Regions from separate parts of the Homo sapiens genome. Here region 1 is linked to region 2. Evidence: fine-mapped expression QTL. A gene starts in region 2. The other region holds a variant in brackets. All regions are shown on one strand. Distances are between the middles of the regions.

What was found.
Region 1: its variant is fine-mapped to the expression of TOP3B in blood mononuclear cells (TOPMed, PIP 0.90).

What each region holds. Positions count from the first base shown.
Region 1 is chr22:21,944,511-21,960,008 of GRCh38, forward strand. PPM1F (protein phosphatase, Mg2+/Mn2+ dependent 1F) reads right to left here and starts at 8,338. Exons shown (of 8, transcript NM_014634.4): 1 at 8,282-8,338; 2 at 1,333-1,598. The coding sequence starts at 1,538. TOP3B (DNA topoisomerase III beta) reads right to left here. Exons shown (of 18, transcript NM_001282112.2): 15 at 15,077-15,226; 16 at 14,622-14,722; 17 at 13,982-14,183; 18 at 12,515-13,085. The coding sequence ends at 12,604. RefSeq lists enhancers at 7,491-7,560, 7,607-8,127 and a silencer at 8,121-8,530. The variant G/C (reference allele first, on the strand shown) is at 8,637.
Region 2 is chr22:21,977,207-21,992,704 of GRCh38, forward strand. TOP3B (DNA topoisomerase III beta) reads right to left here and starts at 5,581. Exons shown (of 18, transcript NM_001282112.2): 1 at 5,524-5,581. It also overlaps the pseudogene PRAMENP. RefSeq lists enhancers at 1,362-1,531, 4,982-5,968, 5,466-5,760.

The DNA of each region.
Region 1 (15,498 bases), 33 kb before region 2:
GAGGGCCTGTCATGGCTTCAGGTGATATTTCAGGTGATTTGGGTGATGCTGGGACTGGGGACCATGCGCACATCCCCTCAGCAAGGGACTAGGTTCACAGAAACAGCACGCGGCCCACCAGCCTGCTCACCTCCATGAGCTGTCCCCTGTGCCAGACAGACAGCCTAACTCCAAGACCCTGTCTGAGCAGAGAGGGTTCGAGAAAAGACCTTGTCCTTCACCATCTTTCATGGGACAAATGCTTCCAGAATGAATGAATAAATGAAGGGGAGGGCAAGGGTCTTCCAAGGAAAGGACCTCTGAGTTCAGCCTAGGCGACAGCTACACACTGTCTGCCGGTGGACACCCAACTCTCTATCTTCCCCGAAATCTGCTCGGCTAGTTGTGCTACCTCTCTGTGCCTCAGCTTCCTCACCTGTGGAAGGGGGACAGTGCCAGCTATCTCTCAGATCGTGGTGGCTGGGGTGCCATGTGGCTCTGCCACTCCTTGACTGTAAGGCCTCAGGCCAGCCTCTTCATCTACCCACCTCTGCCTCCTCGTCCATCACACGGATCGGAAACAGGACGTACTGCTTATCAGCTGCTATGCAATAAATTGTGTTCCCTAAAAGGTATGTTGAAGCCCCAGCCCCCTGTGGCTCAGAATATGATCTTATTTGGAGTTAAAGTCTTTGCAAATGTAATTAGTTATGTTCACATGAGGTCACATTGGCTGGAGTGGCTCATGCCTGTAATCCCAGCATTTAGGGAGGCAAAAACATGAGGATCCATGGAGCCCAGAAATTCGAGACCAGCCTGGGCAGCATAGCGAGACCCCATTCTCCACAAAAAGAAAGATGAGATCACACTGTAGGAGGGCAGCCCCTGGTCCAAAATGCCCATGTCCTTACAAGAGGAGGAGTCACAGACACACAGCAGGCAGGGTGGGGAGGTGTGAAGGCACAGACACACACATGGGGAGATGCCGTGTGCAACAAGGCCAGCTAGGAGGAATGAGTCTACAAGCCAAGGACCTCCAGGAAGTCAAGGCCAGGCACTAACAGAAAGGCAGACTCTTCCCTGCAGCCTTTGAGAGAGCATGGCGCAGCTGCCACCTTGATCTTGGACTCTGGCCTCCAGCCCTGTGAAAGAATGAGCTTTGGCTGTGTTGAGTGCCCAGTGTGTGGTGCTTTGCCATAGCAGCCACGGGAGTTCCACATGGTGCTGCATAGGGATCCGGGGCTGCAGATCCCCGTGTGGGGCTGGACGTGTAGGGGAGCAGCAGCCACATCCCTTGTCGGCCCTGGTGCCGTGCCCTTACTCCCCGTCCCCTTTGGGGGTGCACAGGCCTACCTGCTGCCCAGAAAGCCCATGGCCAGCTCAGCCAGCTCGCCCTCCACCTCCTCCTGGCTGAGCACCGTCCCTGGGGCCTTCCATGGCAGAGGGTCCTCTGGGTTCAGCAGGGCTGGGAAGTCTTGCAGGAGCGTGTCCAGGAAGCCTGGGGTCTCCTCAGCTCCACTGGCCATTGGGCTGCTCTTCTGTGGGGCTCCAGAGGACATGCCCAAAGCATCCCGGGGGCCTGCAGCTAGGCCAGGGCAAGAGGGTCTCCAGGCTTCACCCTGGGGAGAAATGTCAGAGTCAGCAGAATCAGGGGGCCATGGCACCAGCAATGCAGGTGCCCACCTGCAAGCACCATGTGGCAGGTGCATGGCCTCATGGTTCAGGGCCACTAGAGGGTGGAGGGACAACCCTGGCCACTGTTTTGACATGAGTCCAGGTGGGGACTTGTGGGCATCCAGAGATCCGGTCTCAGGAGATGGTGCCAGGAGCAGCAGCTGGGTGGACATTGTCAAGAAGTGACAGAGGAGGAAGACTGTTCCTGGCAGAGGGTGGCCAGCGTGGCCAGAGACGAGCAGGACAGGGATGCCGAGGCCAGGCACTGAGGTAGGTGAGGGGGTTCAACCTGATCACGGGTCCCGAGCAGCCAGGAGGGCTCTGAGGTGAGGGAGTGAAGCCACCAGGTCTGTGAGCCTGGACGTGGTGACCAGATGGCAGGAGGGACACCTGTTGGGGCTCTAGTGGTGTTCAGGGGAGGAAAGAGAAGGGCCAAGATGCGGGAGGCCGGCCCAGGGCTGTTTTGGAGATAGGCCAGAGTGGGAGCAGGAAGGGATCCCCAGAGGCTGCTGGGGCCACCCAAGGGGTGGCCAGGAGAGAAGCAGAGGTTTAATCTGGGACAGACAGGAGGTGCTGTGGGACACCATCGAGCCTATTCAATGCTCTCTAATAGGAGGAGGGAATTGTGAGCCTAGAATGGCTCAGGCCTGCTAAGCCCTGGCTGGAAGAGGGGCACTGTGGACAGTTCCAGGCGCTGACCCCACTGTGCGGCATGTGGGCTCTTCCTCCCTAAGTCCTTAGGGATGACCAGAGCTGACCAGCCCTGGGAGTTGCCCCTAACACCCCAGGAGCCAGGACAAGCCCCCATTTCACAGATGAGAATCCCAAGGTTTGGAGAGGGTTAGTCCCTCGCCTGAGGTGTCAGAAGGAAGACAGGGCCAAAGAGGGATCGCAAAGCCTGTGCCTTCACTCCCTCACCGGCTTCTCTCTCACTGGAAAGAGGCACATGGTGCCTCACAGCCTCCTCCCAGGGTGGCTCTGGCTCCTCTTCTCTCCTAACTCCGAATCTCCATAGTCGCCTCCCCAGCCTGCCTGCCTTGCCTATACCCAAACAGCTCTCCAGCGCCCCCCCTTCCATGTTCTTTGCGTCGCCCCGGGGATTCACCTCCAGGCCCCACACCTGGGCCTCCCTGCCAGCACCCACTCAGCATGGACCCTTCTCTCTCCTGCCCCCTTCCTCTCGGGTGCCTGACCCCTCCAAACCCTCCCCACAGCGGGGACTCCACCTTGGGCTTTGTCTAACACTCAGGCTGGGAAACTTTATTCAGCGAGTCCTACGCAGTAGTGGATGAGATTGGATCCAGAAAAAAATAAAAAAGAAATCCTACACAGTTACTAAGCCAGGGAGAAAAACTGCATTCTTTTATGGTGACAAACGGACATGAGACTCTGAGGAACACCCCGAGTTCTAGGGTGGAGAATTTGGGGAACAGTTTCACAGCCCATCACCTTCATGAGGACTTCCAGGTTCTGAAAACTGAACGAAGAAGGCAAGGAGAATCTTCTAGAATCATCAGTCTTAGAATAGCCACAGACTCTGCCTACAAACTTTGCTAAAAGGGCGGCTGTGGCAGGGGCCTGAGGTGCAGGATGAAGAGAGTGGGAAGTAAGAGATGCAGGGAGCTCACAGCCCACAAGAGGGCTGTCCTTATCAGGAATTGCTAACTTGGAACAAGCCTTCTGGAAGCCTAAAGATAAAAAACACAAAAGAGAATGGGGTGGGCAGAGGGAAAGGTCCCAGCACCAAGTTAAATGTCTGATCAGTGAGGGATTTGGAATGCAAGGGGTGAAGGGTGGTAAATTAACAAAACACAAAACCCTTCTCTTCTTTTAGAGGCAGAATTGAAAGGTAATTTATTTAAAGTGGACACATACAAATAACGTAGGAATAGGGGTGCTTGCTACTGAAGGTTCTGGGGATAGACTAAATTTATTGCTATGGTTCACATTTACTCACAAGTAGGAGTAAATTTAATGCAACCCAGGTTACAGAAGGCAAGCAGGTAAAAGGATAAAGAACATAAAACAACTGGCAAGGCGCTGTGGCTCAGGTCTATATCTCAGCGCTTGGGGAGGGTGAGGCAGGAGGAGTGCTTGAGGCCAGGAGTTCAAGACCAGCCTGGGCAGTGAGATCGCCACCCCCCCCCCACCCCCCATCTCTACCAAAAAAGAAAAAAAAAGAACATAAAGCAAAAAAGGAAAAATCACTTTGAGAGCAGGAGGGACACTGACATTCAAACGACAAAGGGAAGACTGTGAGCTGGAGAAATGAGCAGAGGCTGGGAGCCCTAGTAGGTCAATGAGGAGGCGGCACGTCCTGCCAGCCATGCCCCAGCAGAGCTGTAAGGCATTCGAAGATGGCGTGAATTTCCCAGCAAGCTTGGCTGCCCTCAAGCAGTGCAAGCGGCCAAGGGCCCCTCTTCTGCCTGGGACTGCCCTGGCCCCTGGAGCTTCTGGGAGAATGTGAACGATGCAGAGCTGCCCCCAGCAACTGCCAGTGCCTGGGGCCTCCTCCCACTCCCTTGCAATTCCAAGTGATCTGGAGGCTCTACTGTCTCACCACAAAATGTGCTCATGTGAATTTATGATTAGGATCCAAGTGAGAGGACAGCATGCTCCCCGCTAGAGCACACAGAGGGCCCCCCTGGAGAAACCCCTGCCCACAGTGTAAAGCCCCACTGTCAAGGGCAGAATTCAAGACCCTTCACTTCCACCCCATTTGCTGGTGACGTCTGCTGGACCTTTTGGGATGCAGGTGCCTCCTTCTTGCCTCCTGACCTTGGGGTACTCTTTCCTGTGCCGTGAGCCCCTCCCCACAATCGGCCTGTTCCCTCAGGGAGGGTGGCTCCTCCTGTCTGCACTACAGACCCTGATTCACTGTGGCCACCTGCCTGCTCTCTCTGTGCCTTGTGCCCACTATCTGCACATGCCTCAATGGTGTCTGTGCCATGTGTACTAAGTAAGGTCTGGGGGGTGTGATGATGTGTGTGTGTGAAGCTCTGTCTGCATCTGTAGAGGGGACAGGCTGGCTTACTCTCAGGGCCTGTGCCAACTGCCTGCTCTTGTTACAAAGGCAGGGTGCCCAGGGCCATCTTACTTGCTGGGGACCAAGCACCCTTGTTTCTGCATCACCAACCTAAGGCAAGGGGTGAGGAGAGAAACCAGGACACAGCTTTCTCTCCCTGGAGCCCAGATGTCGAAAGGGACAGGAATCATTTCCTTCCTTTTCCCAATAAGCTCCTGAATCTGACGTACACCATGGCACACCCGGCAGGAAGGAGAAATTCCTCACCAAGGGAAACCAGAGGCAGCCCTGGGAGTGCCTGGAGGGGCAGGGGACAGTGCTGTGGTTCTTTGAGGGATCAACTGGAAGAGACAGCATCAGGAATGGCATGGAGGCCAGCGGCAAGCCGCAGGGAGTAGGGAGAGCTGGGAGAGCACCAGAGGCAGCGGAGCCTGGTGCTGGGCTTTCCTGAGCAGGGCACACCAGTGAAAAACTCCGAATAAGAGGGACGTGTGCATGAGCCTGTGCAAATCACCAAGAGCCCGGGGTGGGCATGGGAGGGACATTGGACTCCTGCATCCCAGCACCGCCTGCCTGGACCAGTCTGACCAAATGCGACTGGCAGCTGGTTCCTCCTGGATCAGGGCCCCACTGCACACCAAATGGGTGCTCACCCTCCTAGAACCTATTTAAGGTCCCACATAGGTGAGAAATGGCAAAGCAAACTCATCGGGGGGCAGCTGCAGGGGTGTGGCTGACGGTGCTGCCAGCTGCCATCCGCCCCTGCTCTGAGCACTCTTCCTGGGATGGCTTTTAGCCTCCCAACAACCTCTTGTGGTTATCCCCACTTCACAGGGCAGGCTGTAGCAGAAGAGCTAAGGAACTTGCCCAAAGTCCCAGGGTGGGGTTCATGCTGGGGAACCTGGGCCTTAACTGTGATGACACCTGGGAAGTCATTCTGACTCCTTCTATCCCTGACCTGTCCCTCATTGGCCACCAGCTCTGGGCTTTGGCTCTCTCATGGCTCCTCCTTCCATTTCTGTGTACCCCCCACCCTAGGGCAGCCCCTCCCCTCCTTGTTTTGTGGTGCCCTCCTTCCATTTTGCCTCCCGAGATCTCTCAGATCCTTTGAGGCTTTGCTGAAATCTCCCCATCTTTGGATCCAGCATGCTCTCTTTCATGTCTCTATGGCACTTTTGCTCACATCTGACTTGTAAAAAGTTTTTTTTTTTTTAATTTAAAATATTTATTTTCCTCTAGTGCATTAGTTTTGACTCCTAAGCTTAACGAATGCAGGGTTTAACAACTGCAGTTTTTTAGGGGACATAGAAAAAATACTTGTTGAGTCTTGCTTAACTGCAGAACCAAGGTAATGAAAAAAACCCAGCAATCCTTAGAAAAGGGAACTGCACCACTATAGTGTAACAAAAGCATCATTCATGTTAACTGTTTTTTTTTGTTTTTGTTTTTTTTGAGACAGAGTCTTGCTCTGTCACCCAGGCCGGAGTGCAGTGGCGCAATCTTGGCTCACGGCAACCTCCGCCTCTCAGGTTCAAGTGATTCTCCTGCCTAAGCCTCCCTAGTAGCTGGGATTACAGGCACCCACAACCACGCCTGGCTAATTTTTTTGTATTTTTAGTAGAGATGGGGTTTCACCATGTTGGCCAGGCTGGTCTCGAACTCCTGACCTCAGGTGATCTGCCCGCCTCAGCCTCCCAAAGTGCTGTGATTACAGGTATGAGACACCACGCCTGGCCAACCTTTTTCTACCAAAAGAGATTCTTATTTCTTTATTCATAACTACTAATACTAATAATAGTTAGATGTAAATCCTAGATTTTTTTTCTACATATATAAATTTTTTTTATTGTTGTAAAATATACACACTATGTATCCTTTTAACCATTTCTAAGCGTACAGTTCCATGGCATTAAGCATAGTCACATTGCTGTGCAATGACCATTTCTTTCTACAGGCCTGACTTTCTTGATAGACTGTAAGCTCCCTGTAGTCAGGGAGCCCACGATGGCCCTTTGTGTACAGCAGGTGGTAAGTGTGATGGCAGAGGGAAGAGTGACTGGCGGGTGGCATGGGCTGAGGAAGCTACACCACTCTGAAGGGTGCAGTGGGCAGCAGCGCCAGGTCTTAAAAGACTCGGTTGGCTTCAGGTCAGATGGTATCCTTTTTTTTTTTTTTTTTTTTTTTGAGAGGGAGTTTCGCTCTTGTTGCCCAGGCTGGAGTGCAATGGTGGGATCTCAGCTCACTGCAACCTTCGCCTCCCAGGTTCAAGCAATTCTCCTGCCTCAGCCTCCTGAGTAGCTAGGATTACAGGCACCTGCCACCACGCGCGGCTAATTTTTGTATTTTTAGTAGAGATGGGATTTTGCCATGCTGGTCTGGAACTCTTGACCTCAGGTGATATGCCTGCCTCGGCCTCCCAAAGTGCTGGGATTACAGGTATGAGCCACCGCGCCCGGCCTTCAGGGGGTATCTTAAAGGAATTCCACAAATGAACTTGTGTAGAGGTTCATGGCTTTCAGAAATGCATTCGTTTTGTTTACCTCTCACAACTACGCTGAGAAGTACATACTGTCAGGCTACACTGCAGATGAAGAAATAGGTTATAGGAGGGCAAGCACCCATTTAAGGTCTCACACAGGTGAAAGGGCAAAGCGAACTCAATCAAGGTCTCTGGATGCCCAATGCCTTTGGTATTTCCACCTCGCGTGCAGGAGGAAAAGAGCGAAATTTGACAACAGAAGAGACTGGAGATGGCCTCAGAGTGCTGGCCGGCCCCACTTTCTATCCCCCGTGGTGAGAGCTCAGCTGGGCCCAGAGAACTTGTCCCGGGGAATGCCACCACGACATGTGTGACTCTGTCCCGCAGGGTGGAAGGCTTCGAAGGAGCCCGCCACCATGCAGTGGGCCTCACTGTGTGTCAAGCGCTGTGCCGAAATCCCTGCAGCCGGAGCCAGTTCTTCCTGTTGTACAGACAGGTTCAGGGGCTTGCCTGACCGAACCCAGCGGCAATGTGCCCGGCCTCCGCGCCTGAGGCTCTGGCTCACAGACCTGTGGCTGAAGCAGCTGCAGCCCGAGCACTTGTGCAGCTGACGCTCGCTTCACGGACGCTTGGGAGGCCGCGGAGCCGGGGGCCATCAGGCAGACTGGGCCCCTGAAGGTGCAGGGACTGGGGGGATATGGGGCAACGTGCCGGCCCAGAGGCTCCTGGGGGGTGGGGAGAGGCCAAATCTCGGAAAATGGGGCGCGTCCCCCTCAGCACCCGATTCTGCCTCATAGCCCTCGGTCCCTACCAGGCCCTCGGCTCGGCCACACCCCCGCCTGCCCCCCAGTTCTGCCCCCTTGGCTCCCCAGCCCCCCAACTCCCAGCCTCGGGTTCCTCATGTCCGCAGCGGCCCCTCTTGCTCCTCGGCCCCCCGCACTGCACCCCCGCACCCTTTCGGTGCACCCATGTGAGCCTCGTCTCGGCCTCCTTGCCTCCCCAGCCCTCTGATTCCACCCCTCCGGTTCCTCGGTCCCATTTCACCCCTGTGCGCCTTGGGCGCTCGCCTGACCCTCGTCCCAGCCCCGTCAGCCCTCTAATCCCGTCCCCCCCGGCCTCCTCACCCCTGGTCTCCGCGGGCCTCAGCTGTCTCCTCGCGGCTCCGTGTCCCGCAAGCTGCTGCCGGCCGGCCCCGCCCACTTCCCGTCCCTGGCCGCCGCGGGCGCCGCGGGCGCCGCGCAGGCGCAGTCGGGCCTCCAGGCTGGCGGGGCCGGACCTCTGCTGCCCCCTGGCGGCTACGTGGACGGTGACTGCGGCCCTTTAGTGGTAGGCGAACTGCGGCTCCACCTGGGCTCCGGAGCCGCCCCAGTCACCAGCCTCTTGCTTCTCTTCTGCAGCTTTGGGTGGGCGGCTGGATGGGGAAAGCAATCCCTAGGTCACAGCGCCCAGAAATTAAGCAACTTCTGCCGTCAATAGCTG[G/C]TAAGTGACAGAGCAGGGATGCAAACCCAGACTGCCCAGGCAGGCTCATCCGTCCGGGAAGGAGGCACAGTCCCAGGCTCATTATGAGTTGTTTGTTTCCACAAACGTTGAGGCTTTTGTTATCTTTCCGTTCTGGAGGTCAGAAGTCCACTTAGCCTCAGTGGGCGAAGATCCAGGGATCGCCAGAATGCGTTCCTTTCTGAGGATTCTAGGGGAGAAACTGTTCCCCTGCCTTTTCCAGCTCCTAAGGGCTCCCTGCATACCTTGGCTCGTGGCCCCTTCCTACAGCCTCGAAGCCAGCAATGGCCAGTTGAGCCTTTCTCACACTGCCACCTCTGGTTCCCTCCTCTGCTTCCTTCTGCTACTTCTAAAGACCCTCCTGATGCCATTGGGCCCACCCAGATAGTCCAGCATCATCTCTCTAAATCAGTTGATTAGCAACCTTAATTCCCCTTTGCCCCTTATTATTATTATTATTTTTTTTTGACACGGAGTCTCACCCTGTCACCCAGGCTGTACTGCAGTGGCATGACCTCGACTCACTGCAACCTCTGCCTCCCTGGTTCAAGCGATTTTCCTGCCTCAGCCTCCCGAGTAGCTGGGACTGCAGGCACGCACCACCATGCCCGGCTAATTTTTTTTGTATTTTTAGTAGAGATGGGGTTTCACCATGTTGGTCAGGCTGGTCTCAAACTCCTGACCTCAAATGATCTGCCTGCCTCGGCCTCCCAAAGTGCTGGGATTACAGTACAGGCGTGAGCCACTATGCCGGGTCTGCCATGTAATCTAACACAGGCACAGGTATAGGACATGAACATCTCTGAAGGGCCATTTTTCTGCCAACACAGAGGCTCTTGAAAATATTCTTTTTCTCTCTTTTTAGAGACAAGCTCCTTCTCTGGTGCCCACACTGGAGTGCAGTGGCATGATCACAGCTCACTGCAGCCTCAAACTCCTGGGCTCAAGTGACCCTCCCCTCCTGCCTCAGCCTTCCTAGTGTCTGGGAACACAGGCAAGCACCACCACGCCCAGCTGATTAAAAAAAATTTGTAGAGACAGGGTCTCTATGTTGCCCAGGCTGGTCTTGAACTCTTGGGCTCAAGTGATCCTCCTGCCTCAGCCTTCCCAAGTGCTGGGATTATAGGTGTGAACCATTACACCTGGCCAAAATATTTTATTTTAAAGGCAGAAGAAAGAAACCTTTATGTCAAAGAAAATGTTTTAATATATGATATTAATATATTCACCTTTATACCAATGCCGTTGGAAAGTATAATTTTTTAAATGGAGGATGGGGCACCAGATCTTATGTGGCTCTGCCCACCTGACCTTCAGGTCCGCAGGCCTGTGTCCTTGCCAGGAATGAATGTCTCTGGGATGCTTCTCTAACAGGAGGAACCTGGAGTGAGACCAGGAACCTGGAGAACTAGCAGCTGGGTGACTGGAAAGGAAACCATCTGGGGTGGGGTTGGGTCTGCAAGGCAGGAGGTGTCTGGGCAGAGAAAGCAGGGCTGGGGCGGAGGGTCCTGCCTCATCCCATTCTCCTGCTCACTCTTTCCTAGATCCCTGTCAGGGCAGTAACCATGAGCAAGGCTTGAGGCTACTTCTTATAAACAGTGGCCCTGGGCACATTCCTTAGCTCACCTGAGCCTCAGTTTCTTGATGAGAAAAAATCGGGACAATAGCAACCAACCTATCTCAGAGGGCTGCTGTGAGACCCTGAGCCACTGTTTCTCAAACTGCCCCTGAGATCACCTACAACAGAATGGCTGTAGGGTGAAGTTTGAGAACCGCAGTACAGGTGAGGTGGTGCGTGGGGCAGGCCCTCCCACACTGTAAAGTGCAGTGTGGTGCGGTAAAAGCTGATATTCCCGCAGGCATCCTCAGAGTGGGCCCAATTAGACTCTTGAGCACTGATTCCATTCAAGGTCTGCGGCTTAGAGAGGATGGCAAAGTGAGGCACCACCAGGAGCTTGTCCCTATGGGCTCCAGGCCAAGGACGTGCCTGGAGATGACTCCTGCCTTGTGGCGCTGTCACTGCCTCACTGTCCACATTCCATCACGCCTCAGATCCTGGCTTCCACCCTGGTGAAAGGAATCTTTCAATATCACCCACCCAGCCACAGACGCTTCTCTGCTTCTCTGGCAAGGCTGCACCCCTGGCTAGGTGGGCAGGGCCAGGGGCTCCTTGAGACAGTCTGCAGCCACTGACCTCTCCAGCCTCCAGGGCAGAGGTACAGTCCCATGGAGCGTGGCTGATCTGAAGGCAGTTCTGGCCTAAAAGGGGTCTTGTCCCTTCCTTGTCCTCATTGCTCCCAAGGCCAGGTTGGCAGCAGTAGCAGCGGGGTTGGATGCTATTGGATGGGAGAAGGTGAATGGACTCGGAGTGCAGAATCAAGCTGCGGAAGCCAAGGGCCTTGAAGGAGGGTCACACACAAGGGACAACTGCAGAGGAAAATAAAGGAACACTTTGTGATTAGCCCTGCCTGTGGCTGAAAGCGCAGTGCAGAAGCATAGTAAGGAAGGACTGGGTGGTCTGGGTTTAAGACCTAGGAACCGTCTCTGCTCCTCCAAGCCTGAATGAGCCCTATAACCTAAGGGTCCTGGAGGTCTTGAAACCTTCTGCGGAGAAGGCTCCAGGTCCACTGGGCCCTGTGGGTGGAAGAGCAGAGTCACAGCCCCGCACTGGGGACCTAACAGGTGTGGCCTTGCTAGGGCCCCAGAATGGGACCAGAGTGGGTGGGAGGGGGCAGAAGCTCTGAGAGCACCCCCTCCTTCCTGAAGCCTGTGCTTCTGAGACACATCCCAGGACCCTCTATGTGGTTCCCCATGTCTCTGTATTTTCATTCAGCTTCGAGTAGCTCTCCAAACTGTGTTCCAGGGAACCCCCGTGTTAACCTGTGAGGGCCTCCAGGAAGGGGGTCCAGGGGGGGTATGCTTGGTGGGCTCTGGGTTTCCTTACAGGAGCTCTCATATAAGTCCTGGTGCAGCCTGGGAATCTACTACTGAGTTGGGGCGGGGGCGGGTCTGAGTCCGAAACATTCCTGACCTGCCCCTCAAAGAAAGGTCCCACTGAACAGTCTGGAAAGCTGTTTTGCTGAGCTCCCGTCATCACTCAATGAGGCACGGGCGGAGTGTGGAGGGAGTTTCCAACACACAGTGGATCCCGCACAGGTGTCTCTCCTCGGGTGGCTGGGGAGGGGAGCACAAGAAGGCACTGAGGTCAGAGGGCAGCTGCCACCAGCACCTGGCACCACACGGCAGTCTGGCCTACAGGGTATTTTCTAAACCTGGCATGTGAATGGGTTCCATGGGGCACCCAGCTGCCTCTAAGACCATAAGGGCTTGTTGTGAGAATGGGAATTGCAGCAGGTCCTGGGAAGCTGCCAGACGCACACGGGCACCATGTACAGGGCTTCTCAGAGATGGGAGCAGGGAGCAGGGGACGGAGAAGTGTGGGGTCAAGAGCGTGGCCCTGAGCAGGGGGCTGCAGCGAAGACCAAGGGGATTCATAAGCCAGATCCGGGGAGGGGGTCTCCCAGCCCCACCTGCTCCACTAGACTCCTCTCCTGCCGGAGCCACAGCTGTCAAGGCCGCCTTCCTTAAGGCATCAGGGCCACTGCTTGTGCACACAGCTACCATCAGCAGCACGGATTGAGATGGGGTGTGAGTGCAAACTGGGTCTATTCCCCAGGGCTTCAGGGTTGGGGCATCCCTGCCCGTACTGCCAGGGTGTAGGGATAGCAGGGAGCACTCTGGGCACGTGTATGCAGGCTGAAGGGAGACGTATTGGGTTTCGGAGAGGGAGAGAGGGCCCCACAGGTGCCCAGGGACACGGTAACGCTCTGACATCGCTGCACCAGCAAAGGGGCCCCAGCTCTGGATAAGATAAAATGCATTTTAATAGTTTGAAGTGCCATGAGGTGTCTGCATGGCACTGCAGCCTGGGTGAGGGAGGACAGGGTCATCATACAAAGTAGGCGGCCAGGGCTGACATCTTGTCCTTGGGCCGTCTGGGGTTGGGCTTCCCAGGGGGCCTCCTGGCCCGGCCCCGCCCTCGACCCTGCCTTCTCCCTGGTCCACCGCGGTGCATGGGGTGGCAGGAGGCCGCATGCTTCAGCTCCACCAGCTCCTGGAAGACGGGGTCACAAAAGACGCAGCCCATGTGCTGCGTCTCATCGCCCGGGAGTGGGGACTTGGCCTTGTTGAAGTCCACATCAAGCAAGGCGGCCTCACAGACACTGCAGGTGTCGGCGGACACCCGCACGCGGTGGGCGTTCTCGAAGCAGTGCGCTACCACGTTGCACTTGTTGCAGGCCACCTTCCACTTGGGGCCCGAGGTGGGGTCCAGCACCAGCACCCCGCTCTCACATTCCACGCACTGGCCGATGCCCAGCATGCTCAGCGAGTGCTGGCAGGAGGGGTGCGTACACTCGTTGCAGCCCATGCCTGGCGGGAGAAGGGAGCCCTGTAAAGGCACGCCCACTGTGCCCACCTGCCCTCTGCTGCCTGCTCCCAATGCCTCAAGCTCCTGGATCCCTCGTCCCAGCAGAAGGAACTCTTCTTGGCCTTGCTCTTGGGGACAGCCTTGCTCATGTTTCGGCTCCTGGCTGCCATTACCCCTGTTTTCTGCTTACCTGAAACCTCCTCAACTTTCAAGGCCCCTCGCTGGCACCATCCCAGTGGGTTTCAGCTGACTCCATCCCCCCTTTGCTTTGCTGCCAGCTTGTTACTGGTAATGCCACATGACCCTCATGTCACTGGGCCACATGGAACCACCCTGTCAGCTACTCTGGCGGCAGCAGGAGGGCAGGGATGGGGTCTCACTCCCGGGGCAGCCTGGGTGCAGACTGAGGCCTGAGGGAGCTTTCTGCAGAGCACACGGTGAATGTGGGCAGATGCCTCACTCCCGCTGATTCCTGGTCTGGCTCGGTGCTCTGTCCTGCCTGCCTGGACATGCGCTCCCTCCTCCAGTAATGAGGACGAGGATGAGGATGGAGGACGGTGGTGGACGCTGACTGGGGGTGCCCGCTCACCGGGTGGGTCCCCCGACTGCTGCATCCTCTTGCTCACTCAGCTCCAGAGGGAGCACTGCACACCTGTGCCCAGGTCCTGAGGGTGGACTAGGGTTGCCTGCTCGATTCTGACACAGAGAGAGGGTGGCACCACTGGCTGAGGCCTAAGCAGTGCCCCAGCTACATCCAGGGTCTCTCGTCTCAGTGCCAATGAGTGCAGGAAAGGCCAGGGTGAGGGGTCCCCTCAGAGTCCAGCCTGGTGCAAGGCAGGGGTTGGCACTGAAAAGAGACTGCAGCTACCTGTGGACAGGAGGGAGTGGCTGCACTCACCTTTCTTCATGTCTCGGAAGGGTGGGTGGTTGTAGCAGTAGGGGCACAGCGGGTAGCTCTTGCCCCGAGAGCCTGATGACCACAGGACCAGCTCGAAGTCATCCAGAGGGCAGCGGAGCTCCTTGTAGAGCTTGATGGTGCCGTTCTGGGGGAGCGTGTAGGTCTCATCGCAGTGGGAGCAGTGCAGGCGGCTTGGCTTGGCCTGCGGCAATGCCAGGCAGGTGGCGTGAGGGTCACTGGGGCCACCGACTTGGCACCCACCCCCACTCCTCTCATAATACAAAGTATGTAATCTGTCATGCAGAACCTGTGACACACTGCCAGGCAAGGAGCATGAGTCTCTGGCTCTTGCTCCACGCGTGCAGAAAAGGCAGTTCTAAAATCTCTGTGTGTACATTAATGCCCATGATGGCAAGTGGCATGGTGTTAGGGAAAAATGCACCATGTGTGTTTGCGTGGCCTAATGGCTGTGTATTCTAGGGGACGTGGGGACACTGGGTATTTTTTGGCAAGGCCTCTTTATGTTCCATCATTCTTTTGTGACAACCAGGACAAAGAACATGATTCCTGCTGATCAACGATAAAGCTGAGGCCTACAGGGGTGAGGCAGCTTGCCTGAGCTAGTGTTCCCTGCACCTACCTGGATGTACTTCATGAAGCGGTGGCACTTCCCACAGCGTGAGAGGGGCTTGCCTGTGGCCGCCAGGGGCGAGAAAGACACCTCCATCAACTCATCCATGCCTGCGGGCAAGCAGAGTGCAGGAGTCATCTCCCTCCCAGTCCCCAGCAAAAGGCTCCGCAACACGTGGTCAAGGGTCTGAGTGTGAAAGGGTCCCTATAGGCGGTGGTTTCTACTGTCCTGGCAGCACGGCAGGGCAGCAGCCCTGTGCGTCAGAGGCACGTGTTCCTGGCCATGTGTGGTGTTAATGCACCTGCTCTTTCAACCCAGCCAGGAGGTGTCACTGACCTGGCCTACGGAGGCCTGAAGCCCAGATCTGGGAGCTGGTCCCACGTGGGGACCTGGGTCCCCAGGTACTGGCCTTGCTGACAGAGAGACACCCCTCTGGTGAGGGGCAGGCCAGAGGCAGACTCTACCAGCAATGGAGTCGACAAAGTAGTGGAACTTCCTCTTGAACACGTCCAGGGTGTGGCCCAGGACCTGGCGGTAGTCGGCCTTGCCCTGGGCGATCAGGTTCAGCTGCTTCTCCACTGCACTGCGGATGGTGGGGAGCACCAGCTCTGCATCTGCAAGTGGGCAGGGGGCAGATATTGCCCTGAGCACTCGCACCCAGGGCCATGCCACCCCTTCCCAGGCAGGGATACTGCCCTGTTCACCCCTCCCGCTCTGGCCCGTCCTCCTGGCCTCTGCCCTACCCACCAGTCCACAGCCTCAGATGGTACCAGGCTGGCTCTTATGACCCCAGACCTTTCCTGATTTCCCACCTGGAAATGTCAGGCAGAGTGGCCAGGGATGTCCTGTGGCTAGAACCACATCACACATGAGCTCCAGGCCGCCC
Region 2 (15,498 bases):
GCAAAATAAAATAATCTCAGCATAAAGAAAAACTACCACCTAGATGGGCACAGTGGCTCACGCCTGTATCCCAGCACTTTGGGAGGCTGAGGTGGGTGGACCACTTGAGGTCAGGAGTTCAAGACCAGCCTGGCCAACATGGCAAAACCCCATCTCTAATAAAAATACAAAAATTAGCTGGGTGTGGTGGTGGGTGCCTATAATCCCAGCTGCTTGGGAGGCTGAGGCATGAGAATCGCTCGAACTCAGGAAGTGGAGGTTGCAGTGAGCCGAGATCATGCTATTGCACTCCAGCTTGTACAACAGAGTGAGACTCCATCTCAAACAAAAAAAAAAAAAAAAAAAAAAGGGAAAACCACCACGTAAGTACCTTTGTGGTATCACATCATGTCCAACAACACTCGCAGAAGAAACTCAGAACTACAATGAGCTTGTGCTTATCACATAGGGAGAGACTCAAAGTCGTTGCACACACAGCAGATGAGGGCATGGGGAAGTTAAATGGGAACAACCTCTATGTGCAGCAATTCAGGGATCCCTCTCAAAGTCCGAGTGCACATCCCAGCAATTCCACTCCTTGGAATGAACTTAATAGTCCAGTTATTTATTGAGTACCTACTGCATGCTTGGCCTAGTCCAGGATGCAGGGAATACAGCACAAAGCAACACCAGGTCCTGCCCTCCCAGAACTCATGCTGTAGTATGGGAGCAGGGGAGGGACAGGGCAGGGCTGGGTGACACCTGGGAGAAGAGTCCAGGCAGAAGGAGCAGGGAAGGTGAGGTCCTTGGGGAGGATATGGCTGGGCAGGGGGGCTCATGGGGCTGAGGGAGGGAGCAGGGGTGTAGAATGTGGGTCTGCTCTAGGGGTGCTGGGAGGCAGCAGAGGGTTTGCATAGGTGTGGGATAATCTGACTTCAAGTGTTAAAGGGACCTCTCTGGCTGCCACATAGAAGAGGATGAATGGGCCCTGGGTAGCAGTGGTGGAGGATGCGAGGGAAGTCAGAATCCAGGCAGACCTGGGATGGCGGGACATGGGAGGGGGAGGGGAAGGTGAGTCAAGAATGACCTGAGGCAGAGCTGGGCATGGGCTCACACCTGCCATGGGCTCACACCTATAATCCTAGTGCTTTGGGAGGCGAAGGCAAGAGGACCACTTGAGGCCAGGAGTTTGAGAAGAGCCTGATTAACACAATGAGACCTCATCTTTACAAAAAAGCAAAAGGAACAACCCATGGCTTTGGCTTAGGCATGACAGGAAGGGACTGGCAGTCTGATGTGGGACTTCAGGTGTGTTAAACGGGACCTGCCCATTGGACAGCCTGGGTGGCCTGGAGGAGGTGGCAGCAATGTGGAAGGAGCCCAGGCTGGGGGTCGGGAGATGAGGAGCTAGCAGGGTGAGTCAGGAGGGGTAAGGTCCTGAAAGCCACAGGAAAGAGCACTTCAGGGCAGTTATCACCATGTGGGGGACACTGACAGGCCAGGCGAGATGGCAGCTGAGACCTGACTGTAGGGTCTGGCAAACAGAGCCCTGGGTAATCCTGATGGGGCCATGTGGTGAGTGACAGATGAAAGCTGCATGGGGTGAGCTCAACAAAACCTGGGAGATGGGAGAAGGCTGGTGCACTGTCCCCTCTTGTTTCAGGATGGTGGCTGTGCCAGCATGTTCTCCGCTGATGGGACTGCTCTGGCGAGAAGGAAAAGAGAAGCTGCGTGCCGGAGGGGAAGGAACTGCTGCAGTGATGGCCTTGGGAGGGTGAGGGGCAAGAGAGGCAGCCGGTCAGCATCCAGGCGATGCAGAGCTGCCACAAGGCTGCACTTCTCTTGGTGGAGGAGGAGGCATGGTACGGCTGTCCACTGAGGGAGGACAGGTGGTGATGCTGCGGGCAGGCCCACAGCAGAGGAAGCACTGGATTTAGTTAGATGGGAGAGTCCAGGTGAGTAGGAGGGAGAGGGAGTGGGTCAGGGTTCGAGGGGAGAGATTACAAGGACAGAACCTGACTCTGAGTTGGGTGAAGAGGGAGGTGAGGGTTGGGGAGGGTCCACAGAGGGTGTGCTCTGTGGGGTCCAGGAAGTGAGGCACAAGAGCAGGAAGTGGGAGTCAAAGAAGCAACTCCCAGAGGGTGGGAGGCTCAAACAGGAATTACAGAGGGGCCTGGGTGGTGGCATGCTGACCCAGGGAGGGCAAGGGCTGTGAGACAGGTAGAGAGTGAAGTCACCTGGGGAGACTCACAGGAGTCAGTGGTGGGCCCTGACAAGACTGTCCATGTGGACTCTGAGTCCCCAGGAGGTAGGACAGGGCAGCGCTGGAGTGGCCTCAGGCTGGGCACGGTGGTGCCTGTGATGAACCACATCACTGGGGAGTTCTCTGCAGCATTATCAATCATGATAAAAGGTTAGAAACAAGCTGGTGTCTGTCAACAGGGAGGTGGTTAAATAAAAGCATGGCATTCTCTGGCCGGGCGCGGTGGCTCACGCCTGTAATCCCAGCACTTTGGGAGGCCAAGGTGGGCAGATCACGAGGTCAGGAGATCAAGACCATCCTGACTAACGTGGTGAAACCCCGTCTCTACTAAAAATACTAAAAATTAGCTGGGCATGGTGGCAGGCGCCTGTAGTCCCAGCTACTCGGGAGGCTGAGGCAGGAGAATGGTGTGAACCCGGGAAGCGGAGCTTGCAGTGAGCCGAGATTGCGCCACTGCACTCCAGCCTGGGCGACAGAGTGAGACTCCATCTCCAAAAAAAAAAAAAAAAAAAAAAAGCATGGCATTCTCTACAGTAGAGCACCTGGCAGCATTACAAAGGAAAGCATCTGCTTGGTACATACTAACGTGGATCAGATCACTGAAATAAATCATGCTAAGAAAGCTGGGCATGTAACGGTGTGTAGAGAGCACTGCCATCTGTGATCACACATATGTGTGCACACGTGTGCACTTGATTATGAAGAGGCGATATGTCTGGATGGAACGCAAAACAAACAGTCCAAGCAATCACCTGGAGTGGGTGTTAGGGCCTGGAGGTCAGGGCTGGGGGTGCCTCCTCACCACATTCCCTTTTGCACCTTTTACATTTAGCGCCTGGACACAGGTGACTGAGGGACAAGAACTAAGACAAGGGACTTTACAATAAAACCAGAAAAATAAAGGAGGGTTGTAAAGGGCATTGTTCAGAAAGGATGCCAAAGGAACTCCCTCACTAAAGGGGCTTCTGCTGCTCATCATGCTGTGCAGGGGAAGAGGTCCAAGGTCGGCCTTGGGCTGTCAACCTTGTTCCCCACTTAAGAGATCACAGGACTACAGTGAAATCAGTAATCTTGACCAGAAAGCTGTCCCAAATAAAATGACAATTTGCTTTTTTCCTCAAAATAAGTAAGTGGATGTTCCCCTTAAATGTACAACCATCCCACAGTGAAAGAGCCGAGGCCTTGTGGAATGACGACACTGTCTGCAGATGAGCTCTCTGGCCCATGACAGCTCCAGCTGCATCTCCCAAGGCTCTGCTGCGCACCCACCTTTCCTCCCTGTGCGCCAGCAGGCTTCGGCCTAGGCCACTTTTCCCCCTTAGTCTACTTGCTCTGACCCCTGCCCCTCCCCTCCTGAAGACTGCATCTGGCGTCAGCAGTCTGTCTCTCCCACAATTGTCAGGTTCATTGCCATATTTCTGGCACCCAGCATGCACTAAATGCCTGCTGAGGGAATGAATGAACAACCAAGGTGATTATGACTGGCCTCTGCTCTCCGTTCTGGGGAAGTTTTGATTCTACCAAAATCAGAGGCCCAGAAGTGAGGTTTAAAAGAGATTTAGGGACTCCCCTTCTCTCACCCTGGGAAGCCAGAGGCCAAAAGGGAAAACTCGCAGCAGAGGGGCATTGTTCTGTGAGGGTCTGAGTTTCCCATCTCTTCCAAAGTAGGAAATTTTGTCCTAAAATGTTTCCTCAGATTTTCTCATGTCTATGCCACAGAGTAGTCAGCAATTATGTATGACATAATGAGGACACACCAGGGACCAGGCAGTCCTGCCAGCATCCTAGGCAGGGATGCTAATAGGTGCTGCCATTTTATTGGCCTAGACTGGGACTGTGGGGTCAGAGAGACCAGAGCTCCAGTGGCTGGACTTGGTTGTTCTAGAACCCGTGCCCCAAGCCTGATCCTGTCCTGCCTCTGTGAGCACTCTGATGGAACAGCAGCCCAGCTTTGCTTCCTTGTAGCACTCATCACTACACTTGGTACAGCTTCCATCTACTTATTCAGCTCTTGTCTTACAGCTCCTAGAAAGTAAGTAAGCAGCAGGAGAACACGGGTTTTGCTTTGTGCATTCTCACGGTAAATAGACAGTGAGCAAATACTTTGCGAGGCTGAGGCAGGTGGATCACCCGAGGTCAGCAGTTCAAGACCAGCCTGGCCAACATGGTGAAGCCTGGTCTCTACTAAAAATACAAAAATTAGCTGGGCGTGGTGGCGCATGCCTGTAATCCCAGCTACTCAGGAGGCTGAGGCAGGAGAATCACTTGAACCCGGGGGCGGAGGTTGCAGTGAGCTGAGATCGCGCCACTGCACTCCAGCCTGGGTGACAGAGTGAGACTCTGCCTGCAACAAAACAAACAAAAAAAGAAACAAGCAGATGTGGCCTGGGAGTAGGCCTAGCAGTGGTCTGAATAGCATTAAAATTCCTAGGATTTACCACCTCAGTAACTTTACCAAATGCTTCTAGAATCAGGAAAAGAGGGAAACAACCATTTCTTAAGCTCCTCCTTTGTAGTAGGCACACCATAGCTATCAACACTATTCAATCTCGCCAGCAACCCCATAAGGCAGGTGTTGTAATTTTTTAAAACTGTGAGTAAATGGAGGTTCAGAACAAGTCACACTAGTGTCAGGTGACCTTGGCAAAAGAATCCCAGGACTGGCTGGCCATCAAGCCCAAGTTAGGCTGGCCTCTCAGGTCCTGTTTCAAAAGGTGAGAAGATAAAAAGGCAAGACTAGGAACATCTTACCTTTCACTTCTGCGAGAAATTATTGCCCCTGGATTCCAGCTAATTTGTTCACAAAAGTACCCTACTTCATTTACAGATAACAGGTCAGAGAACCTGGGTGCCCTCAAAACCCAGCCAGGGCCTAGGGGGCGGCGAGTGGAAGCTGCCTGGGTGTGTACCGCACCGATCTGGGCCCCGGTGGCTGCACAGCTTCCCTGAGCCTCAGTTTCCCTACCTGTGAGACTGGTACAGCAGATCTCACCCTAAAGAGCTGTGGGAGGGTTCGAAGAAGAAAAGTATTAACCACAGCGCCTGCTCCCTGCAGGCACATGGCGGGCCCATCTCCACCTCCCTGAACCCCCACAGCAAGCCCCGCGGGAGAGTATCACCCCCGCCAGGGAAGAGGCAACAAGAATGCAGAGCCCGGCCCGGGCGCTCTCCCGAGCTCGCGGGTCCTCCGCCGGCCAACGTTCAGGAAACAAGCCAGAAAAATGCGTGCGCTTCCCGCCTTTCTGAGCCGCCGGGCGAGGGTCCCGCAGCCCGCCGCTCACCCACAGCCGCACCGCGGATCCAGCTCCGGTCCTTGTTCCCGGGGCGGCTACCGACAACCCCTATTTCCGGGTCCAGCCGCTTCTGGCGTCCCCGCGTCCGGTGTGCCAGCGTCTGCCCTCCGGCTCCGGCGGGTCGGCGTTCTTAGGTTCCGTGGCTCGCGGATTCCGGGAGCACCCCAGGGAGTGGCACTTGCACGCCGCGGACCGCAGGGATCCCCAAGCCCTGCACCCAGATTCTTCCCCGCCACGGAGAGACAATCATGACAATTATCATTACAATGATTATGAAAACTGGCATGAAAACATTTATGCTGTTAATAATTAAAATAATAAAAATGTACCGATGTGTGTATAGCAGGCTTCTTTTCGATGCTGTAAAAAAATCTGTGGAATGAATGAATGATCTGTGTAAAATATATTTGGAAGATGAATTCTAAAATTAAGTTATTTATTTATTTATTTATTTATTTATTTTGAGACAGAGTTTTACTCTTGTCGCCCAGGCTGGAGTGCAGTGGTGTGATCTCGGCTCACTGAAACCTCCGCCTCCCAGGTTCAAGCAATTCGCCTGCCTCAGCCTCCTAAATAGCTGGGATTACAGGCGTGCGCCACCACGCCCAGCTAATTTATATGTGTATGTATATATATGTGTGTGTATACATATATATATATATTTTTTTTTTTTTTTTTGAGGCGGAGTCTCACTCTGTTGCCCAGGCTGAAGTGCAGTGGCGCAATCTCGGCTCACTGCAACCTCCGCCTCCCGGGTTCAAGCGATGATCTCGCCTCAGCCTCCCAAGTAGCTGGGACTATAGGCGCTTGCCACCACGCGGGCTAATTTTTTGTATTTTTTTAGTAGAGACGGGGCTTCACCGTGTTAGCCAGGATGGTCTCGATCTCCTGACCTCGTGATCCGCCCGCCTTGGCCTCCCAAAGATTTCTATATTTTTAGTAGAGACGGGGGTTTCACCGTGTTAACCAGGCTAGTCTTGAACTCCTGACCTTAGGTGGTCCGCCTCCCTCGGCCTCCCAAAATGCTGGGATTACAGGTGTGACTCTTCACGCTCGGCCAACTAATTTATTTGTTAGAGCATTAGGATTATGGAAGGTTTAAAATACGTTTTATGATCTTATTTTAAATAACATACACACATTGCCCTTGTTCCTTGTAGATTTTCCCAACCTGCTGTTTTTTTTTTTTTTTTTTTAAAGACAGGGTTTCACTCTGTCACCCAGGCTGGAGCGCAGTAGCGAGATCACAGCTCACTGCAGCCTCGATCTCCTGGCGTCAGGCGATGCTCTCACCTCAGCCTCCCCAGTAGCTGGGACCACAGGTGCCAGCCACCAAGCCCAGCCAATTAATTTTTTTTTTTTTGGTAGAGATGGGGTCTAGGGGGAGGGTCTCACTATGTTGCCCAGATTGGTCTCAAACTCCTGGCCTCAAGTGATCCTCCTGCCTCGGCCTCCCAAAGTGCTGGGATTACAGGGGTGAGCCACTGTCCCGGGCCCCAACCTGCCTTTATTGGAATGATCTGTGTAAAGTATATCTGGAAGATGAATTCTAAAATTAAGTTATTTATTTATCTAATTTATTTTGATAAATAATAAGTAGTCTGGATAGAGGCTCTGGAAAAAGAAAAGTTCTATAGGCAAATTAAGGTTTGGAAATGTCACAAATTATGAGTCACGGTGAGACTTCACTTTCAAAGCAGAACTCCTGATTCCAAACCCACACCTTGGTAGGTTCTTCGTCTCCAAAATGGCAACTCCATCTTCCTGGTTGCTCAGGGACAGAGCCTGGGAGCATCCTGGACCACCCACAAATCCTGCCATTACTGTCTTTACAATACAGATGCTCCTCAACTTCAGATGGAACTACATCCACATAAACCCATCTTAAGTTGAAAATATTGTGACTCGAAAGTACGTTTTTGACTTATGGTATTTTCAACTTACTATGGGCTTACCCAGATGTAGCCCCATCATGAGTCAAGAAGCGTGCAGAATGCATACTGGTTTTGTAGTTGAAAAATCCTGTAGGTGGAAATTGTCCTAAATCGAAGACTGTATATCGGAGATCCCCTCAAGTCTCCCTGCCTCCCTGCCACCACCCTGATCCGAGCTCCTCCTCTCCCTCCAGGTCTCCACCTTGCCGCCCTGCAGTGTGTTCTCCACATACCAGCCAGGGCTAAGATTGGCTCTGTTGGGTGCTACCAGTTGGCTGAAAGAGAAACCCAGAGGCCCTCAGCTCATTCCATCAATCCAGTTCCAGAGTTCATTGTATGGAGCCCTAGGAAGGACCTGAGGCCTGGGCCAGCAGGAGGCGCTGAGTGGTCAGCTCTGAAGGCCAGGGCGTCGGGAAGTGTTCTTGGTCAGAGCAGAGAAACTGCAGTTGCCTTGTGCTTTCTTCCCGGAGAGCCCTGCAGCTGACCCTCTGCCAGAGCTTTGGGTCAGGCTTTCTGACTGACCCTTAGGTTGACAAATGACCCAGATTCAGAGGAACCCTTCAACTTGGAGGTGTCTCCCTATTGGGACTCCCCCCAACCCCAGCTCCACTCTGACCAGGGAGATGGTGGCCTAGGATCGACTCAGCGAGAGGGGCCGTTCTTCTTTCCCCATGGCTGGGGAGAAACTGACTCCCCTAAAGAGTAGCAGCAGACTTGCCTGCAGAGGCCTCCTCTAAGGAGTGTGCAGAGGCCATGAGAGAAACTCAGGTGCCCAGACACCGCCATGGGACTTCAGGAAGCAGAGCCCTGGGGTGTTTCCACCATGGTCTTGACTTTTCTCCTCTTCCTTACCCTCCTCACTTACTGGGCAGGTGCCTGGTTATGGTGGATGGGATAACTGAGGGCTCCTGGACCTCTCTTCTCTCTGGTTCGGCATAGGCTGGTCCATGATTTTGATAATACTATTAATAGTTAACATCATGCAGTGCTTACTTACTCTGTTCTAGGCACTGTTCTGTTACTGACACAATCCTCATTACAACACTAGGAATTAGATATTATTATTATCCTTATTTTACACATAAAGAAGCAGGACACATAGGCCAGGCGCGGTGGCTCACGCCTGTGATCCCAGCACTTTGGGAGGCTGAGGCGGGCGGATCACCTGAGGTCGGGAGTTAGAGACCAGCCTGACCAACATGGAGAAACCCCGTCTCTACTAAAACTACAAAAAATTAGGTGGGCATGGTGGCGCACATCTGTAGTTCCAGCTACTCGGGAGGCTGAGGCAGGAGAATCGCTTGAACCCAGGAGGCGGAGGTTGCAGTGAGCCAAGATCATGCCATTGCATTCCAGCCTGGGCAACAAAAGCAAAACTCCATCTCAAAAAAAAAAAAAAAAAAAAAAAAGAACCAGCAGGACACAATGATGGAAGTGGCAGAGCAACCTAGTTCCAGAAGCCACTTTTTTTTTTTTTGACGGGGTCTCACTCTGTTGCCCAAAGTTCTGGGATTTATGGGCATGAGCTACCGTGCACAGCCTTAAAGATTACTTTTTTTTTTTTGAGAGGAGTCTTGCTCTGTCGCCAGGCTGGAGTGCAGTGACACGATCTTGGCTCACTGCAACCTCCACCCCCTGGGTTCAAGCGATCCTCCTGCCTCAGCCTCCCGAGTAGCTGGGACTACAGGCACACACCACCAAGCCCAGCTAATTTTTTAAATTTTTAAATATTTTTTTATTTTTAGTAGAGATGGGTTTCACCATGTTGGCCAGGATGGTCTTGATTTCTTGACCTTGTGATCCACCTGCCTTGGCCTCCCAAAGTGCTGGGATTACAGGCGTGAGCCACCGCGCCTGGCCAAGATTACTTTTTGAAGTTTGAATAAAAGGGCAATGAAACCTGCGCTGAAGAACAGGAAATTGACTGGCTGTGTGCTGAGGCCATCCTTCTCCCCTGTCTGGGAGGGGGACTTCTGTCACTCTGCTGTCCCCAGAAGTGGGTGGAGCTTAAAACGTCACAGAAGCCCAAGTCATTTGCAGGGTACATGGAGAAACAGCTCTTGGCAGCCTGTCCTATGACCTGAACTCAACATGTCTTTTTTTTTTCTTTGAGACGGAGTCTCGCTCTGTCACCCAGGCTGGAATGCAATGGCGCGACCTCGGCTCACTGCAACCTCCCCTCCCGGGTTCAAGCAATTCTCCTACCTCAGCCTCCTGAGTAGCTGGGACTACAGGTGTGCGCCACCACGCCCAGTTAATTTTTTAAATTTTTAGTAGACATGGGGTTTCACCATGTTGGCCAGGTTGGTCTTAAACTCCTGACCTCGTGATCCGCCCACCTTGGCTTCCCAAAGTGCTGGGATTACAGGCGTGAGCCACCATGCCAGACATCACCATATCTTTATACTCCTTTCTTCACAAAAGAAACAACTGAAGAACAACCAGAAGGTGCCAGCATATTCTGTGAACACCAGCAAAAAACCCACGTAAATAAATGGTGGCAAAAGTGAACTCTTTACACAGGAGAAGCTACCTCCCTGCCTCGCCTAAAATGTCAAAGGATATCATAGTGACAAACATGAAGCCGATATCCATAATAAATTTTATTTTGCCCAGTGACATAAAAGGCAAGTCAGATTACTGTTGGAATGATGAATTGTGTTGATTTCAATTCTTTATAATATTTTCTTATTTTAAGAAGAAATTCTTGTAGTGGTAATTTTGGGATATGACTAAATGAATGTGCCTTTCATGTGGAAGAATAAACAAACAAGAATATTGGGCCAGGCATAATGGCTCATGCCTGGAATCCCAGCACTTTCAGAGGCCAAGGTGAGGGGATCACTTGAGGTCAGGAGTTTGAGACCAGCCTAACATAGTGAGACCCTGTCTAAAAAAAAAAAAAAAAAAAAAAGATTAGCTGGGCATGGTGGCATATGCTACTCAGGAGGCTGAAGCGAGAGGGTGGCCTGTTCCCAGGAGGTTGAGGCTACAGTGAGCTATGATTGCACCACTGCACTCCAGCCTGGATGACAGAGTGAGACCTTGCCTTAAAAAAAAAGTCAAGGAGGATGAGGAGAGAATGGGGAGATAAAAATGTTACCAGCTAGTACAAAGCCACAGGAGCCCAAGACAGGCCCATGAGATAGATGGAAATGAGAGAAGGAACATCTCTGAGAGCTCGCCGCAATAGCCATGTTGGAAAACATCTGTCCACTCATATCTTCCTTTATTCTCACACTCATCCAGTATTTTTTGGGTACCTACTAATTTCCAGGCATTGTGGATACGATGGTGAATGAAACGGAAAAAAAGTCTGCTCTCTTGGGCCTTACTTTCTAGTGATCTGTGATAATTATCTCAGAAAATGTATATCAAACACACAGCACAGTGTATGACAGTCAACAGTCAAGGGCTGGCCACCACTACTTTGATAATCATGTTGGTTTCATGTTTGCAGTGACCAAGAGTCAGGGGTTAACTGAAAGACCCAAACACGTATCCATTACTCAGATAACTTTCTCTGTGCTCCAAGCTGACTTTGCCAAATAGTACAAGCAACACCCCTAATGCTGCAGGGTGCACAGTGTCTCTGTAGTGATGGCGTGAGTGGTTTCTGGGGGTGCAGGCGCCACCTGCTTCCTCGGTTGTTTCTGGGGAGCTGGCACATGCTGCCTTTGTGTGTGGAAGTGGGTGTGGTGCAGGCCGAGGCAGGAGGATGCTTTGGAAGCAGGGAATATCTGGGAAAGCAGTTGATCTGGCCCTGGCCCAGAGATCCCTACCCACCACAGTCCTGCTTCTACAGGGCAACAGCAGGCAACCCATTCTTTTCCTCTAATCCTACTGAAATGTTTGGCTTTCTCCCTCCCTCCCTTCTTTTTCCACTCTCCCTCTCCTCTTTCCTGCATTTCCTCTCTTGACTGAGGCCTGCGTGGGGCTTGCTGGTGCATCGTGCACCTACTGCTTCTTCCTAGGGATCCCCTGGAGATGACTGTCCACTCACCACCAAGATGGGGAAGGACTTATTGAAAAAGACCCACATGACCACCACTCTCCCGAAGATTTTCCATGGATCATTTCCCTGAATGCTCCCACCAAGCCTCCCAGCCAGGTTCCTCTGACCACTCTACTTTGCTATGGGAACTCAGAAGTGTCCCTTCTTTTCCAAGAGGGTTTACTAGATGCCAGGCACTGTTCTCAGCATGTAACCCTTCTAAATAAGTAACTTATTCAACACACACGTAATGGTGTGAGGTAAGGACTATGATTAACTTTGTGATTCAAAATTCTTAAATTCATAGATGAAGAAACTGAGGCACAAAATAGTGGATGCAAATCACAGTCAGCTCTCCTAACCCCAACCCAGAGGTTGAGTTTTGACCCTCGGCCTGGACTGCAGGAAACCTTCAAGCAAGCTCTCAAGTGGGTGCAGCAGGAGGAAGGTCTTATGATCTTGGGGAAATTTGGTCCAGATACTTCCAGGAGCAAGCATCCTCCCATATCTGACTAAAGAGCAATACTGACTCAGGCAAGAAGAAAGTGAGTGGTCAGGGTAAGGAGGAAAGCGAGGCTGAGGTCATGGCAGCACCTGTGCCCTGACACTGCTGGAAAGACATGTCACCAGAAGGTACCTACAGGAAGCAATGGGATTTCATTCATGCAATCTGATCTTACGCTCTGATAGTGTCATGTGGAGCAGCTGCAGTTACATGCCTGCGTGGCTGCATCGGAGAGAGGCGCATTGTGTGGATCAGAGGCAATTAGCCAGTCAGGGTTTGGGGAGGCATCTGATTTTTTCAGCACAGCAAGGAACGGCACAGTACATCGAGCCCCCAGTGCATTTCTCGGTATCTCGATCTTCCTCTACTTGCGCTTTTCTGTTCCTCTGCCTGGAGGTTTTGCCTCCATTCTAGTCTCTGCTCTAACACAGACCTTGTGTGTACTTTATCGCAAACAGTTCCCTTTCCACCCCTCAGCAGCGGGCCCCACTCCCTTTGTTTTGCCCTTTCTCAATCTGAAGACGTGTCATTTACCTGCCAGCTTGCTTATCTGCATGGAGCCCATGCTCCACTAGGGCACGAACTTGGAGTTATTTCTGCTGCATCCTCTGCCCTTGCAAAAGTACCTGTCACCTGGGAGGCACTTAGCAAGTACTTGTTACCTAAATGGACAATGTGAAAAATCACCATGCTCCACTCGCAGGCCAGGCTGCTGGAGATGACTGTATGGCCTCTGGACTGGCCCTCTGAGCGTGACCGATACACAGAGGAAGGTGGGTGCACAAGGACTGTGCTATTCTGTAGGAATCCTATGAGGAATCTGCTGGGCACTATCACAACCTGGAGTCAGGGTAGTTCAGGAGGCGCTGAGGCTGCTGCAAGATGGCTCATGAGAGCAGGCAAGCTCCCTCGCCTGGATGGAAGCAGCACTCAGCAAGCAAGGCACTGAGGACCCTTCCGCTAAGTGAGGCTTTCTTACCTATCTCTGGTTCCAGGGTTTACATGGGTGGAACCAGGATGCCTACAACAGAGCTTCAGCAAGGACAGGCAAACAAACAGAAACTGACAAGTGGACTAGCAGAATGGACTGAAGGCTGCTCTGTAAACTTCTCCCACCCAGCAGTAATACTCTGGCTTTCTATGGCCCTGTGTGTCAGTTTGGTCCAGGCCTTTCTATGAAGCCCCTGTACATATCTTGGTCACTCATAAGTTCCCCTGCGTCTGCCTTCTGTCTCCATCTACATCAGCCTTGACTATATTCCACCCACATGGTGCTGGGGGCCTGGGCCTGTGAACCTCTGACCTGTCCTCTCCTGCCAGACTCAGGCCCAGCTCTCAGCTGCTGCTGTTGCCGGGCCCCTCCCAGGGTGCCTGACTCCAGATCTCTGCCACAGATTCAGGACTGGACTCAAAGGTCTCCTCTCTGAGGTGCCTTCCCTGACCTGCTTTGGCAGCCACTCCTGATTCTTCTGACTTTGCCCTGTTGTAGGGACTTCCTAAACGGTTGTGACCCATGCTCTCCATGTATGCCCGGTCTGAGGACAGCAGCGCCTGGCCCAAGCACACGCTCGATGGTGATCAGCTGACTGATGGCCGCGTGCTCTGGGTTTGGTGCCAGGCATGTGCCTCCTTCCAGTCTCCCAACAGCCCCCAGAGCTGTTCAGACCTCCAGTGCACAGCTCATGTCCAAAGGTGGGGAAGTCAGCTAAGGACCCACTTCATTCTACCCAGAAGCATAAGACAAAGAGAAACTGAGTGAGTGGCCAGAAGAGGGAGTGTTCGCCAGGGAGGGCTGGACCTCTGGGGTCTCTGGTGATCTGGCGGTAGAGCCACCTGGATAACGTGTGCCGATTGAATGAACAGGTGAAACAGGCCAGGCTTTCGACTGGGGAAGGGGAGCGAGAGGAATGAAGAAAGCGCCAGATAGTTCCCATGGAAGTTTATTTTATGTTCCTTGCAAACAACATGTGGCCTCAGCTGTGATTCCAGCTGCCCTCTCTGACTTCTGTTCCCTGAGCCTGGCTCCTGTTCTTCATTCAAACTGCACCAGCTGCATAAGCAAAGACAGTGGAGGGGCTCCACTGCATGTCAGCCTGCTGCATGGCTTGCAGCTGCTTCTGTATCTCGGCCTGCAACTGGCACAGCTTGTCCTCGTTCACAGGACCCCGGCAGACGCCATGCAGGTAGATGCAGCAGTCAACTGGGATGGGATAGAGTACCTGCTTCAGCTCCATCAGCCCCATGGTGTGCTCCAGCAGGCTCAGGAGGCAGGCACTGGAGATGGGGTTGTCGGAGAGGCTCAGGGAACTGAGGTGGGAGCAGCGGCACAGGGCGGGCAGGAGGGCACTGAGGTGGGCATCCTTCAGCCAGCAGTGTTTCAGGTCTAGGTGCTGCAGTGTCCCTGAGACTGCCCTCAGCAGGGTACCCAAGGGCCCAGGGATCATGTAGGACAAGTCGTTGACGCTCAGATCCAGCTTCTTCAGGCAGGTGGTATGATGGCTCCGGGACAAGTAGGTGATGTCAGTGTCCAGAAGCTTGCAGTTGCAGATCTCCAGGGAATGTAGTGGGACCCACAGACAGCTGAGGAGAGAAGGGTGGCTCTGTGAGGGGAGGGCCCAGGCACCCCACCCGGAACACCTATTTGTCCATGGAGGAGGCTAGTCCTATGGCCACCCCCTCATCAGGGAAGCCATTTACCAGCAGGGTCAGGAGCATGTCCTTTGGTGTCCCAAGGCCTGGCTCTCTCTCAACAGACCTACCAGGTCCTCCACGAACCCTTCTAACTCTAAGTTTCTCTTCGGTGAAAGGGAGATGCACATTATCCATACCTAATAAGACTGCTGAGAGGAGCCATTTGAAAGCGCTTATCTGATGAGAAGTAACCATAGGCTGAGGCCATTATTCCTCAGGTTTGGGTTTGGGGAAGCTGCTGCTCAGGCTTCCATTTAAGCCAGGGCTGGGGGTCCTGAATGCCCTATCTTGAAATTTCTAGGAGACGTGCACAGAGTGGATACTGATTGTCCTTCAGGGCTCTGTACCCACCTGTCTGGGGCAGTATGAGCTCAGAAGAAGAGGCATAACCTGTGCTGTGTCAGGATCTTTTCTTGGGGACCAGCATAACATTCAGCAGTGCCTGAAAATGTTTGTTGAGTAAATAAACATATTATTAGGAAAGGCGCAATGGCTCACACCTGTAATCCCAGCACTTTGGGAAGCCGCAGTGGGTGGATCACCTGAGGTCTGGAGTTCAAGACCAGTCTGGCCAACGTGGTGAAACCCCATCTCTACTAAAAATGGAAAAATTAGCCAGGCATGGTGGCCCATGCCTGTAATCCTAGCTACTTGGGAGGCTGAGGCAGGAGAATCACTTGAACCTGGGAGGCAGAGATTCCAGTAAGCCGAGATCATGCCACTGCACTCCAGCCTGGGTGACAGATACTCTGTCTCAAAAACAAAAAATTAAAAAATTAAATGAAATTCATGGAAGACCACTGTTTTGGACTAAGCTCCTGCACTAGACCTCAAAAGAC